4 linked regions of the Homo sapiens genome follow. The protein of the gene in region 1 purifies or fractionates together with the protein of each later gene. This does not show direct contact. Each region holds a gene or a part of one and is shown in the gene's direction. Other genes may lie near its edges.

Region 1 (3,500 bases):
CCAGTACTAATTTGTCATTAGAACCCAACCTGTTAAATCATTCCATTTATAAAGATACATACACACATACGTTGATTGCAGCACTATTCTCAATAGCAAAGAGATGGAATCAAACCAAATGCCCATCAATGATAGACTGGGTAAAGAAAATGTTGGTACATATACACCATGGAATACTATGCAGCCATAAAAAGGAGCGAGATCATGTCCTTTGCTGGAAGCTGGATGGATGGATGAAGCTGGAAGCCATTATCCTCAGCAAAATAACACAGGAACAGAAAACCAAACACTGCATGTTCTCACTTATAAGTGGGACCTGAACAATGAGAACACATGGACACAGGCCCCAGATTTATTGTGGCCTTTCTAGGGAGGGTGGGGTGGGAGGGAGAGCATTAGGGAAAAGACCTAATGCATACTGGACTTAATACCTAGGTGATGGATTGATGGGTGCAGCAAACCACCATGGCACATGTTTACTCATGTAACAAACCTGCACATCCTGCACATGTACCCTGGAACTTAAAATTAAAATATTAAAAAACCAACCTGTTTTTTAAAACTTCTAGCACTTGGGCTTTATGAACATTTATTATAAAAATATCACTTGCTGTTTTATGTCTTTTAAAGATTATAATTTTTCTCCTTCTCTTTCCATCTATTTCTACTCACATCTTCACAGGGAAATCTGAGGAACCAAATTGTGCTTGTGATCAGTTTCGTTGTGGTAATGGAAAGTGTATACCAGAAGCCTGGAAATGTAATAACATGGATGAATGTGGAGATAGTTCCGATGAAGAGATCTGTGCCAAAGAAGCAAATCCTCCAACTGCTGCTGCTTTTCAACCCTGTGCTTACAACCAGTTCCAGTGTTTATCCCGTTTTACCAAAGTTTACACTTGCCTCCCCGAATCTTTAAAATGTGATGGGAACATTGACTGCCTTGACCTAGGAGATGAGATAGACTGTGATGTGCCAACATGTGGGCAATGGCTAAAATATTTTTATGGTACTTTTAATTCTCCCAATTATCCAGACTTTTATCCTCCTGGAAGCAATTGCACCTGGTTAATAGACACTGGTGATCACCGTAAAGTCATTTTACGCTTCACTGACTTTAAACTTGATGGTACTGGTTATGGTGATTATGTCAAAATATATGATGGATTAGAGGAGAATCCACACAAGCTTTTGCGTGTGTTGACAGCTTTTGATTCTCATGCACCTCTTACAGTTGTTTCTTCTTCTGGACAGATAAGGGTACATTTTTGTGCTGATAAAGTGAATGCTGCAAGGGGATTTAATGCTACTTACCAAGTAGATGGGTTCTGTTTGCCATGGGAAATACCCTGTGGAGGTAACTGGGGGTGTTATACTGAGCAGCAGCGTTGTGATGGGTATTGGCATTGCCCAAATGGAAGGGATGAAACCAATTGTACCATGTGCCAGAAGGAAGAATTTCCATGTTCCCGAAATGGTGTCTGTTATCCTCGTTCTGATCGCTGCAACTACCAGAATCATTGCCCAAATGGCTCAGATGAAAAAAACTGCTTTTTTTGCCAACCAGGAAATTTCCATTGTAAAAACAATCGTTGTGTGTTTGAAAGTTGGGTGTGTGATTCTCAAGATGACTGTGGTGATGGCAGCGATGAAGAAAATTGCCCAGTAATCGTGCCTACAAGAGTCATCACTGCTGCCGTCATAGGGAGCCTCATCTGTGGCCTGTTACTCGTCATAGCATTGGGATGTACTTGTAAGCTTTATTCTCTGAGAATGTTTGAAAGAAGGTCAGTATCAAGACAGAACTATTGGGCCTCAATAAAAGCAGGCCCAAGTGTTTGAAACAAGTTCTTTGATGATTAGCAATGTATTTTTGTTTTATATTAGTTTAGAAAATGGATAAAGATTGTTGATGATGTATAAAATTAGCGTGAAAAACCCGAGACTCAGAAGGCCAGACACATTACAAACTAAATATTTAGAGTTATGAGAAAAAGCCCATCTATTTACCAGCTCCTGTTTTCAGATTAATCTGTTTTATAGGAATATTGTAAGCTGCAGCTCTCAGTTTTAGTGTTTTAACCTGTATTTTTCTAAATACAAATTCAAAAATTCCAGTTATTCTATATGCTATGTTCAAAGCATACAGGTAAATAGAAAAATGAATAAGGCATAATATCACAAGCAGTTTACAGTTAGGAGGAAGGAATTGGGGCATGGAATAAGATGACAAAAGTATAATACTATAAAGAGCTATGAAACAAAATGGTATAAAGTCAAAAATACGTAATCTAATGAGGGAGAGAGGCAGAAAGGCTTTAATTGGAGGGGTGCCACTTGAAATGTATGAGTAGAAGAATATAGATAGGGGAAAAGGTGTTGTTAAAGCAATAACCTAGGAAAATATATAGAAGTAGGAATGTCCAGCATTGCTCAAAAAGTAAGCACATGATTCAGTTTATCTGGAGCCCAGGATGCGTATGAAGGGCTAACAGGAGATACGATTGGAACACAAGACTAATGTCCTGTTGTAGAGTTAAGTGACAACAGCACTTCAGAGTTCTCAGTTCAGTAAGAAATGGTTAACTGTTAAAGAGTGACCTTCAGAGTGAGTAGTTTTCAGTTTGATGCAGGATAAATGGGACCTGGCAGAAGTTAATGGCAGAGATGTCCCTGTGGAGACAATGACCTTCAGTCCCAGGAGAATTACAAATAATAGATTTAACAACTTTTTACGTAACAGATGGCTAATAGGTGGCACACAGATGCACAGTATCGTAATAACCATTACTGCATCTTTTCTTTTTTTTCCTTTTTTTTTTTTTTGTTGTTTGTTTGGAGACGGGAGTCTTGCTCTGTCACCCGGGCTGGAGTGCACTGGTGCGATCTCAGCTCACTGCACTCCGTCTCCCAGGTTCAAGCGATTCTCCTGCCTCAGCCTCCCAAGTAGCTGTGATTACAGGCGCCCGCCACCACGCCTGGCTAATTTTTTGTATTTTTAGTAGAGACAGGGTTTCACTCTGTTGGCCAGGCTGGTCCCAGACTACTGACCTCGTGATCCACCCGCCTTGGCCTCCCAAACTGCTGGGATTACAGGTGTGAGCCACGGCGCCCGACCACTGCATCTTTGGCCAAGTGTAAATGGCCAGAAAACTTTTTACCACATTGCAACAAAAGAGCACAATGAAGAGTCAAAGATCCCAGCTGGGCGCAGTGGCTTCAACGTATATTCAGTAAATACAGTATTCTTAGGAGTTTTTAAATCTTGTATTATTTCTCCCTTTACCTTTTACAGGGATTTTCATTTATTAAAACTCAGTGATCTAGGCTTCTACTAGCATAAAGCCCTATGAAGACAGACTGCCTGCGTCAGCTTTGTATTCCCACTGTAGGGATAATACATATATTCAGTAAATGTTTGTCAAATGACTAAGCTTTAAAATGATCAAATATGCCAAGACTCAGATTGTTTTAATTACTGATAATAGAAAATTGTTCTT
Region 2 (3,500 bases), on another chromosome or scaffold:
TGTCTACCTATGAAATTGCCTGAGGCCCCTTCCTCCTTCAACCCTCACTTAGCCATTTCCTCCTCAGGTCTTACGACTGTCTCTACCCCCACTTCCCTACTTTGTTATCCTCTCTGCCCCAATTCATGACTCAGCATCTTACACTAAACTATTTCAAGACTCTGGTAGCTGGGCTCACTGCCTCAATTCCAGCTCCCTCCAGTCCACATGACAGCCAGAGTATCCTTTCCAGGCACAGATCTGACCATTTTATCTTCTTTTAAGATACCATTCCATGGCTTTTCCCTAGCTACAGAATAAAGTTCCAACTCTACAGCGTGGCACTCAAGGCCCCCCATGATCTGGATCCTCTCTCTCCTGCCCCACATCCTACACTATTCTTCCACACATCTTACACTCCAACCTCTTTATGCTACTTTCCATTCTTCTAAACATTTACACACTTTCTTGTTCTGCCTTTGCTCATGTTTCCTTCATCTTTTCTGCCTCTTAAAAACCCTTCAAGGTCCAACTCAAATGCCTCCATCACTGTGGACACTCTCTGAGCCCTGATCAGTATCCATCACTTATTCCTTTCAGCCTTAGTAGCTCTTTGCTTGTCCCCTGCATTGTATCAGAGCCCCTGGGCGAAGGCACTGGATCTGAGCCACCCCGAACTCCCATCACAGGGTGTGGCCCATATTGGTGATAACTATCTAGATTATTTTTTGAGTTATTTATTTCATCATGCTGCTCCTACTTGCTATTGGCCCACACGAGGGAAGCAGCAGCCACAGAGTTCTTGCCTGACACATGGGGTAGTAGATGAGAACGTGTATCTCCTGGATCTTAACTCAGTGAGCTCTTGTTCTTTTCCCCTCCTCCATCCAGACAAGGCAGCACAAGTACTAGATGTCAGAAGGCCCCAAAGGCCTTGCATGAAATGCTGCCCAGTCCTGGCTGATTGTGTTCATAGAGCCATTGATGAATATTTTTCATAGTCAGAATGATCATCTTTTCCAGGGAAGAGATCTTATGGTTAATAGTCACATATTAGTTTGTTAACAGTTCTACCCATATGATGGAGGACTGAATGCTTGGCCCATAGAGAATTCCTTAAAGTGAACATCTCTACTAGAAACTATTGAGAGAAGGAGAGCACCCAGCCAATCTAGAAAAAGGGAATACCCAGCCAGTCTCAAGGTAGTGCCCTGGGAAAGGAGAACACCCAGTCTCAGGGTAGTCCTCCAGACTGGGGTAAGAGACATAGCCCTGCTGACCAGACGCATGTGGTCTGATGATATCCTTATCAAAAACAAGAGGACAGCCACATATTGCCTTATATGTAAGTGCTGGGGGGAAGGGAAGGCTGTGATGATAAAGGCAGTGTAGTGTGGCTGAGAGGTGGGGAGCACTGAATGGAGGCTTCCTAAAGGAAGTGAGTGTGGGGCCTTGTTTATAGGGAATTACATATGGTTTTTCAGAGACAAGGATGCAAGTCTGTTTTAAGATGTTCTTTCTGGCTGGGCGCCTGTAATCCCAGCACTTTGGGAGGCCGAGGTGGGCGAATCACAAAGTCAGGAGATCGAGACCATCCTGGCTAACATGGTGAAACCCTGTCTCTACTAAAAATACAAAAAAATTAGCCTGGCGTGATGGCGGGCGCCTGTAGTCCCAGCTACTGGGGAGGCTGAGGCAGGAGAATGGCGTGAACCCAGGAGGCGGAACTTGCAGTGAGCCGAGATTGCGCCACTGCACTGCAGCCTGGGCGACAGAGTGAGACTCCGTCTCAAAAAAAAAAAAAAAAAAAATGTTTTCTATATTATAGACTAAGGATCTCTGAGAAGAAGGGAAAGGAACATTTATAATCACTTACTATATGCCAGGTACATAATGACTTTATTTCAGGAGACAAGATAGTTGGCGTGCTTGTGTCTTCTTTTTGTGGGCAGGTAAACCCCAAGCCAGACTGAGAACTCCTTTCACTCTCCCGCCCTCAGGCCCAAGCTGCTGTTCTCTTCTCCAGTGCCTGCAGTGGTTACCAACCTGTTCCCGTTTCCCTGACCACCTCTTTCCAACAGAATTTCTACAAATAGCTAGGAATATCTAGTCTTTGGGACACAGGATGCTTGAGAGGGCAAATGATCCAGCTTCTGGCCTCCAGGCAGGATGAAATTTAAACCATCCCCAGGTGTCTTCCAAAAGGTGTCCGTGGAGTCTTTTTTTTTTTTTCTTTTGAGACAAAGTCACGCTCTGTGGCCCAGGCTGGAGTGCAGTGGCTCTATCTTGGCTCACTGCAACCTCCACCTTCTGAGTCCAAGTGATTCTCCTGCCTCAGCCTCCCAAGTAGCTGGGATTACCAAGCGCTCACCACCACGCCCAGCTAATTTTTGTATTTTTAGTAGAGACGGGTTTCACCACATTTGCCAGGCTGGTCTCCAACTCCTGATCTCAAGTGATCCCACCCGCCTCAGCCTCCCAAAGTGCTGGGATTACAGGCGTGAGCCACTGTGCCCAACCTGTCTGTGCAGTCTAAAGAGAACTGTGCTCAAGGAGAGTTGTGATGAATGTCTTCTAATGGTGCTGCACAGTCCTGCTGAGAGCTAGCATGGAAGTGGAAGCAGCTCTAAGCTAGCCACAAAGAGCAGGGCTTTCTGTCTTGGCTCTACTTCCAATATTCTGTGATCATGGACAAGCCACTTATTCTCTCAAGGCCTCAGTTTCCCTGTGTATAAAATGGCAAGAGTTATATTAAATAATCCTTAAGTTCCTTCTAATCTAAAGTTCAGTGATTTATAGAAACCAAAGAAAGGAGAGATTAATATGGGTTCTGATGGTCAGGGAAGGCTTTGTTGTACAATTATTTATTGAGTACTTACTTATTGAATGCTGTCATAAGTGATTGCATATAGCAGTGAGTAAAACAAATATAGGCCCTGCCCTTATTGTTTAGTGTATGGTCTAATGGAGAAGACAAACATGTAATCAAGCAGCTAGAATAAGCTATTGTATTAGTCCATTTTCATACTGCCATGAAGAAATACCTGAGCCTGGGTAGTTTATAAAGAAAAAGAAGTTTAATGGACTCACAGTTCCACACGGCTGGGTAGGCCTCACAATCACGGCAGAAGGCAAAGGAGGAGCAAAGGCACATCTTAAACAGTGGCAGGCAAGAGAGCAGGTGCAGGGGAACTGCCCTTTCTAAACCATCAGATCTCGTGAGACTTATTCACTATCATGAGAACAGCATGGGAAAAACCCACCCCCATGATTCAGTTACCTCCTACTGGGTCCCTCCCATGACACATGGGGATTATGGGAGCTATGATTCCAGATGAGATTTGGGTGGGGACACAGCCAAACCATATCAGCCATGATGCTAAGATTTTACCTGGGATCTGAAGGGAGGAGGTCATTTGAGCTGCAGGTGACAGAGCCATCCCCTCTCTCTTTTCTTTTGCCACCAGAGCTTCTACCGAGTCTTCCCCCACCTCAATCCCTGTTGCTATGGAGACTACCAA
Region 3 (3,500 bases), on another chromosome or scaffold:
GAATATGGGCGGAGGCATCAAGTCTCCTGATGTTGAGTTCTTCAATACTCCTTAACCACACCTCACTGTTCTAGAAGTCCTCATTTGCTTCTTTACACTCTGGTCCGTCGTGGGACTGACTGGATTTCATACTTTCCTCGTGGCTCTCAACCAGACAACCAATGAAGACGTGAGTCAACTTTCTCTTCTCCTCACCACATATTCTTCTTCCCAAAGCCTATCCTCTTGCTACCTGCTAGAGAACTACCGAGTCTCCAGGGCCTGGGAGGTTGAGGCAGGCAGAAACGTGGTATGCGAGGTTGTTAAGTCAGATGTGTGGAAGAGAAAGGAGAGGGCTTTGTTGAATGCTTGTGGAGCATTAGGAAGAAGAGGTTGAAAAGTTGGGTGGGTATACAGCCTTTAACTGTTCACAGGTCCTTAAAGGCTAGCTGGTGCCTCTGTTTGGCATGGAGAGGGACAGTTGCACTGGATGAATCCTTGCTATATAAAAAGTTACCAATTAGGCTGGGTGTGGTGGCTCACGCCTGTAATCCCAGCACTTTGGGAGGCTGAGGCGGGCGGATCACCTGAAGTCAAGAGTTCAAGACCAGCCTGGCCAACATGGCAAAACCCTGTCTCTACTAAAAATACAAAAATATAGCCGGATGTGTTAGTGTGCACCTGTAGTCCCAGCTACTCGGGAGGCTGAGGCAGGAGAATCACTTGAACCCGGGAGGTGGAGGTTGCAGCGAGCAAAGATCACGCCACTGCACTCCAGCCTGGACAACAGAATGAGACTCTGTCTGGAAAAAAAAAAAAAAAGTTAGCAATTAATCTACATTCACTGTAGAAAATCAGAAAATACAGATGAGCAAAAAGAAAAAAGTAAGTTCCTCTTACTTTACTTCTTAGACATCACCTTTGTTAGTAGTATGATTTATATATTCTAGACTTGTCTAGACTTTTTTCCATGTTTATTTATGTGTTTATATTATGTACTTTTAAATAAAAATAGTATATATCATTCAGTTATCTGCTTTTTTCACTCTATTGTGAGTATTTTTCATGGCTGTGTATGTATTTCTTTTTTGTTGTGATAAAATATACATGATATAAAGTGTGCTATATTAAATGTCTTTCAACCCTGGCGATCAATGGGGTGACAGTTGTTGCAGCCAGATCGCCCTCATATCCTAAATGTACAGTTCAGTGGCATCACATTGTTGTGCAACCATTGCCACCATCCATTTCCAGAACTTTTTTATTATCCCATGCTGCATGTGTTTCTTCAACATTATTATTATTATTTTTCTTTTTTGTGTCTGTTTTTAATTTTATTATTATTATTTGTTCATTTTAACATTATTTTTAATGTCAGCCTTGGTTTTTATCTTGCAGATCAAAGGATCATGGACAGGGAAGAATCGCGTCCAGAATCCCTACAGCCATGGCAATATTGTGAAGAACTGCTGTGAAGTGCTGTGTGGCCCCTTGCCCCCCAGGTGCTCAGGGCACTCAAAAGTCCTGGGACTGTTGGGATGAGCAGCTCAACCTGATCCTGTTACCTTGTCTGATGTGTTTTTCTGAGTGTGGCCTCTTGGTGTCAAATAGGTCTTTCCAGGGCTTGCCACTTGGTACCATGTCTACATGGACCATAGACCATGGGCTGGTTGTTTTGGAGGGATGATCTTTCATTCTTAATTTCATTTGTTTGTTCCCTGGTTAATGTGACATTTCCTGGTTTGTGGAAGAAAAAGTGAATGGGAGATAAGAGGCATGTGCTGTGTTCAGGCTAGATTGCCAAAGGACAGGTTTATATTTTCCAGTCTATGCAGCAAAATTCCGTAGGCCAGGTGGGTGGAGGGGTGAATGCCCAGTTCTTTGTTAACTCTCTTATCTCCTTCAGTGTGCTGGATCGAAGGGGTATTTTGCCACTGGAGGAAAGTGGAAGTCGACCTCCCAGTACTCAAGAGACCAGTAGCAGCCTCTTGCCACAGAGCCCAGTAAGTGTTCCTGACTTAAGGCTGGGTCGATATAGAGAGGGCGGAGGCTAATTTACAGCTTGGAAATATAATTAGGCAATATTGTATTCTAATCACCCCAGCTTCCCTGCCTCTACACCTGCCCTGATGTTGCCTTCAGATCTTTGTGTCCTTGATGTAGATTAAGATTTAGTCATTTCTTTGGTGTATATTGAGTGACTCTGTGCCAGCCACTGTACTAGCTGCCAGGGTTATACCAATGAATGAGGCAAACGATGTCCCTGCTCTCAAGGAGCTCATTGTCTAGTGGGGGCAAGAAACAAGTAAACAGGCCATTGCTCAACATTGTGAAAAGTGCCTTGATGAGGAAAGCATAAAATGCTATAGGGGCAAAGACAGAGGTCAGGGGATTGTATTAGAGTTAGTGATGTGGTTACTGTGGTAGAAGGGGGCTTCCTAACTGGAATATGCAAAAGTTGTGGAAACTCTCCCAGCTGTCCTATTTAAGATATATAAAGTATATCTTTAAAGTATATAAAGTACTTTCCTAAAAAAAAATATTACTTGAGCTTTTTTTTTTGAGATGGAGTTTTGCTCTGTCACCCAGGCTGGAGTGCAGTGGTGTGATCTCGGCTCATTGCAACTCCACCTCCCAGGTTCAAGCAATTCTCTGCCTCAGCCTCCGAGTAGCTGGGATTACAGGCGCCCGCCACCATGCCTGGCTAATTTTTGTATTTTCACTAGAGACAGGGTTTCACCATCCTGGCCAGGATGGTCTGCATCTCCTGACCTCGTGATCCTCCCGCCTCAGCCTCCCAAAGTGTTGGGATTACAGGCGTGAGCCACCGTGCCCAGCTGAGCTTTCTTTTTTTAATAAGAACTTTATTGAGATATGATTCACATACCATAGGTCCCAATTTTTTTTTTTTTTTTTTTTGAGACGGAGTCTCGCTCTGTCACCCAGGCTGGAGTGCGGTGGTGCAATCTCAGCTCACTGCAACCTCCGCCTCCCGGGTTCTCCTGCCTCAGCCTCCTGAGTAGCTGGGATTACAGGCATGTGCCACCACGCCCAGCTAATTTTGTATTTTTTAGTAGAGACGGGGTTTCTCCATGTTGGTCAGGCTGGTCTCGAACTTCTGACCTCAGATGATCTGCCCACCTCAGCCTCCCAAAGTAGAGGATTACAGGCGTGAGCCACTGCGCCCAACTGATCCCTATTTAAAATGTATGATTCACTGGTCTAGAATATTCACAGAGTTGTACAATCATTATAACAATCAATTTTAGAGCATTTTCGTTACCCTTCCACCCTAAGAAACCCTGTAGCCATTAGCAGTCACTCTCCCTTTCCCCTGAACTTCCCCAGCCACACCCCTAGGCAACCACTAATCTACTTCCTTTTAGTACAGATTTCTCTCTTCTGGGTATTTCATGTAAATGAAATCATACAATATGTGGTCTTTTGTGACTGGCTTCTTTTACTTAGCATGTTTTCGAGGTTTGTCCATGTTGTACTATGTAGCAGTACTTCGTTCCTTT
Region 4 (3,882 bases), on another chromosome or scaffold:
GTGTGTTTTATAGAAGCCCAAACTCAGCCAACCACAGCTTGTCTGCTGAAGTTGCAGATAATTTCAGGTCACATTCTTTATCATTTGCATGCTCTTTATCATTTGCATTATTTTTGAATGAGTCTAAATCATTTCAAAAGCATCTGGTCTTCCTAGGGTGCTTTCGAAATGAATTAGCCTCATTCAAAAAAAAAAATATTCACCACTAAGGTTTTAAACAGCAAATGTTCGCTGTGATAACGTCTTAGAGTTGTGAATTACTGTAGACCACACAAAACACTTCTTCAGTATTACACCTTACCCCTCCAAAGTGCCTGTGGTGTAGGAGTCAGTCACTCCTATCTCTAGAAAAGGATGGTGGCTAGGAGAGTTGTCTGATTTTTACATAATCCCAGAAAGTACTTAAGGTAGATTTTAAAGATCGTGGAATACAGACCGATGGCATAAAGGGAAAAGGGAGGGGAAAGAAAGAAGGAGTGAAATGAAGCCAGAGGTTCTAGTCATGTGGCAAGTCACTTACAAGGATCGGACAATGCTCCGAAACTGAGCAAGTTAAGGGTGTGTGTGTGCACGCGTGCGCGTGTCCGTGTCCATGTGAGTGCGAGTGTAAATATTCTTAAAGGCATTAATGAACTGAGGAGACATAAGGAATTCTCAGGCCATGGTTGAAGGCACAGAGGAACCCAAAGAGAAATCTAGTGGGGAGTGCAGCTGGCCTTTGCCCTGAGGGCATTTGTGAAACCTGGTCAACTTCATTTTCACCTTTTCAAGAGATACAAATGGAAGATCAAGCTGAGAGCACAGCCAAAATGGCAAGCCAATCAGTAATCTCTTAAAGTAAGGGCCCCCAGAGGGCGGTACCCTCATTGCAGTGGCAAACTAGAGGCAACTCACTTCTCTACCCGCAAAGGAATCAGGGGGGATCAGTCATTTCAAGCCCTAGAGCTGAAAGAAAAAGAGAAAAATCACTGCCGAGTATTTGGAGCAACAGGTTCTCCCTAAATTTGTGTGAGGTGGGTGACCAAAAGTCCCCAAGCTGAGAATTTAATAGAGAGTGATTCTGAACTGGTCATTCCCAGGAGCCAAGCATAATTCCTTCTGAGTAACAAACCTTCATCCTAAGCCTCAAAGATTTCTCAAAAATAAAACTACAAAGCAAAGAAGCAATTCTCAATGAAAAACAACCCACCACATGTGAAAATAAAGCACTGAGTGAGAAGCAGCAGAAAACGTAGTAGAAACAGACACATAAATATTTCAGATGTTGAATTTGGCAGACCAAAACATGAAGAAAACACAAAGTCAGAAATATCTGAAGAGAACAGAAAACTATTTTTTAAATTACAAAGCAGATATGGAAAAACACCAAATAAAACTTATGAGAAATATCACTGATTTTTTTTAAAGTGGATGGATTTAACAACAAATTAGACAGTTGAAAAGTGAATTAGGGAACTAGAATCTAGAGCTGAAGAAATTACTGAAATAGATACAAAGTGACAGAAACGCAAAATGTGAAAAAAATGAATGAGAATACAGTTTGAAGGCTATGTTATGTTTAGAGTCCTAGAAAGAGAAAAGAGAGAAAATTGGGAAGATGTCATATTTAAGGAGATTTGGCTGAGAATTTGCCAACATTGTTAGAAGACACCAACTCACAGATTCATAAAGCCCAGTGAATCCAAGAAGGGGAAATAAAATTCTAGACACAACATAATTCAATTGATAAATGCCGTAAACAAAGAATATATATATATATACACACACACACATATGTATTTAGACAGAGTCTCGCTGTGTCACCCAGGCTGGAGTGCAGTGGCCCAATCTTGGCTCACTGCAAACTCCGCCTCCCGGGTTCACAACATTCTCCTGCCTCAGCTTCCTGAGTAGCTGGGCCTACAGTTGCCCACCACCACACCCAGCTAATTTTTTGTATTTTTAGTAGAGACGGGGGTTCACTGTATTAGCCAGGAAGGTCTCGATCTCCTGACCTCATGATCCACCCGCCTCGGACTCCCAAAGTGCTGGGATTACAGGTGTGAGCCACCACACCTGGCCAAAGAAAATATTTTTTAAAATATCTAGTGATAAAAGATGGGTTATCTTTCAAAAGGATGTATTTCCGAAGAAGAACAATAGAAAATGGCCTCTGTCGGTGATGCACTCATCTCTAAGCTTTCTGGAAGGATGGGGAGGGCAGGAGCCTGGCTCGGGAGGACTCTCACTAGACCCAGCTGGGAGTGGGGCTCTGTGTCTAAGCCAAGGTGATGATCCACCCAGAAACCAGCCCTGCCTCTCCAGGCAACAGGTTGGGGTAAAAGCCACCGGTGGGTTTCCATCACAAGTAGAGCTGAGCTTCCTCCCTGGTGGCTGCTCAAAGAGTGACTTTGTTTTGTCCTGCAGGAGCTCAGGTGCCCCTGTGATCCAGGTCTTCTACCCTGAAACCCCACCCTCCATCAAGGTCCTGCCTGTAGAGTCTACCTTGCAAAGCCTCCTGCTCCTACCCATGCTACAGGCCAGGAACCAGAGCCCATCATCTCAGAGGCCCCTGGATGTCCTTCGAAGGAACCAGGACCCTCAGAGCCCAGCATCCATCTCTGTCATCATCTTCATCACACCCAAAGAAGAGCCAGCCTTGCAGGAGGGTTTACATCTCCAGGAAGATGGGCTGCCAGCAACTGCAGAGGATGCAGCCACCTGCTTAACTGTGCTGTCCAGCCAGCCAGCCAGCTGCAGGGCCTCTTGCTGCTTAAGAGCTGATGGGCCGGGCATGTTGGCTCACACCTGTGAGCACAGTACTGGGAAATGGGAGCACAGTACTAGGAAATGGGAGCACAGTACTGGGAAATGGGAGCACAGTACTGGGAAATGGGGGCTCACAGCACTGCAAAATGGGAGCACAGTATTGGGAAATGGGAGCACAGTACTGGGAAGTGGGAGCACAGTACTGAGAAGTGGGAGCACAGTACTGAGAAATGGGAGTACACTACTGAGAAATGGGAGCACAGTACTGGGAAATGGGCATACAGTACTGAGAAATGGGAGCACACAGTACTGGGAAATGGGAGCACAGTACTGGGAAATGGGAGCCCACAGTACTGGGAAAGGGGAGTTCACAGTACTCGGAAATGGGAGCATAGTACTGGGAAATGGGAGCACAGTACTGGGAAATGGGAGCATAGTACTGGGAAACCCCAGACCTGGATTCTGAGTTTTTCAGCCTAGCCCAGACTTCTTATCTTAGTAGACAAAAAGAGTCAATACCAGAGAACCAGAGGCATCCTCTGTATTTTAATGAACTCTGCATTTTAATCTGTTTAGTAGTCATTTTTTAAAAGATAATCAGTTTTCCAAATATATCTATAAGTTACTACGTGCATTGGGCTGTTTTTGTGTTTCTGTAAAGAAATACCTGAGGCTGGGTAATTTATTTAAAAACAGGTTAAACTGGCTCACAGTTGTGCAGGCTGTACAGGAAGCATGGTGCTGGCATCTGCTTGGCTTCTGGTGAGTCCTCAGGAAGCTTCCGTCATGGCTGAAGGTGGGGTGAGAGCCAACACATCATGTAGTAAGAGCAGGAGCAAGAGAGAGTGGTGGGGTTGAGGGAGCACCATGCATTTTTAAATGACCAGATCTCAAGTGAACTACCAGAGCAAGGACTCACTCATCACCAAGGGGATGGCACTAAACTATTTATGAGGAACCTGCTCCCATGATTCAAACACCTCCCACCAGGCCCCACCTCCAACACTGGGGATTACATCTCAACATGGGATTTGGAGGGGACAAACCTCCAAGCTTTATCATTCCATCCCTGGTCCCTCAAATCTCATGTCCAGCTCGCCTTGCAACATATAATCATCCCTTCTCAATAGTCCC

Evidence for each region. Proteins that work in one complex are often made in the same cells at the same time.
Region 2: the proteins of LRP12 (region 1) and KCNE3 purify together in Homo sapiens (co-immunoprecipitation; one large-scale study listed by IntAct). This does not show direct contact.
Region 3: the proteins of LRP12 (region 1) and ZDHHC9 purify together in Homo sapiens (co-immunoprecipitation; one large-scale study listed by IntAct). This does not show direct contact.
Region 4: the proteins of LRP12 (region 1) and ZDHHC11 purify together in Homo sapiens (co-immunoprecipitation; one large-scale study listed by IntAct). This does not show direct contact.

Annotation. Positions count from the first base shown.
Region 1 is NC_000008.11:104,495,259-104,498,758, reverse strand, and holds part of LRP12 (low-density lipoprotein receptor-related protein 12 isoform a precursor), read left to right. Parts: intron 1-682; coding exon 683-1,787; intron 1,788-3,500. UniProt on the Homo sapiens protein: Probable receptor, which may be involved in the internalization of lipophilic molecules and/or signal transduction. May act as a tumor suppressor.
Region 2 is NC_000011.10:74,457,550-74,461,049, reverse strand, and holds part of KCNE3 (potassium voltage-gated channel subfamily E member 3), read left to right. Parts: intron 1-3,446; coding exon of another isoform or gene 3,447-3,486; coding exon 3,487-3,500. UniProt on the Homo sapiens protein: Ancillary protein that functions as a regulatory subunit of the voltage-gated potassium (Kv) channel complex composed of pore-forming and potassium-conducting alpha subunits and of regulatory beta subunits.
Region 3 is NC_000023.11:129,809,387-129,812,886, reverse strand, and holds part of ZDHHC9 (palmitoyltransferase ZDHHC9), read left to right. Parts: exon of another isoform or gene 1-66; coding exon 67-169; intron 170-1,377; coding exon 1,378-1,481; intron 1,482-1,885; coding exon 1,886-1,982; intron 1,983-3,500. UniProt on the Homo sapiens protein: Palmitoyltransferase that catalyzes the addition of palmitate onto various protein substrates, such as ADRB2, GSDMD, HRAS, NRAS and CGAS. The ZDHHC9-GOLGA7 complex is a palmitoyltransferase specific for HRAS and NRAS.
Region 4 is NC_000005.10:795,105-798,986, reverse strand, and holds the end of ZDHHC11 (palmitoyltransferase ZDHHC11), read left to right. Parts: intron 1-2,406; 3' UTR 2,407-3,382; downstream 3,383-3,882. UniProt on the Homo sapiens protein: Endoplasmic reticulum-localized palmitoyltransferase that could catalyze the addition of palmitate onto various protein substrates and be involved in a variety of cellular processes.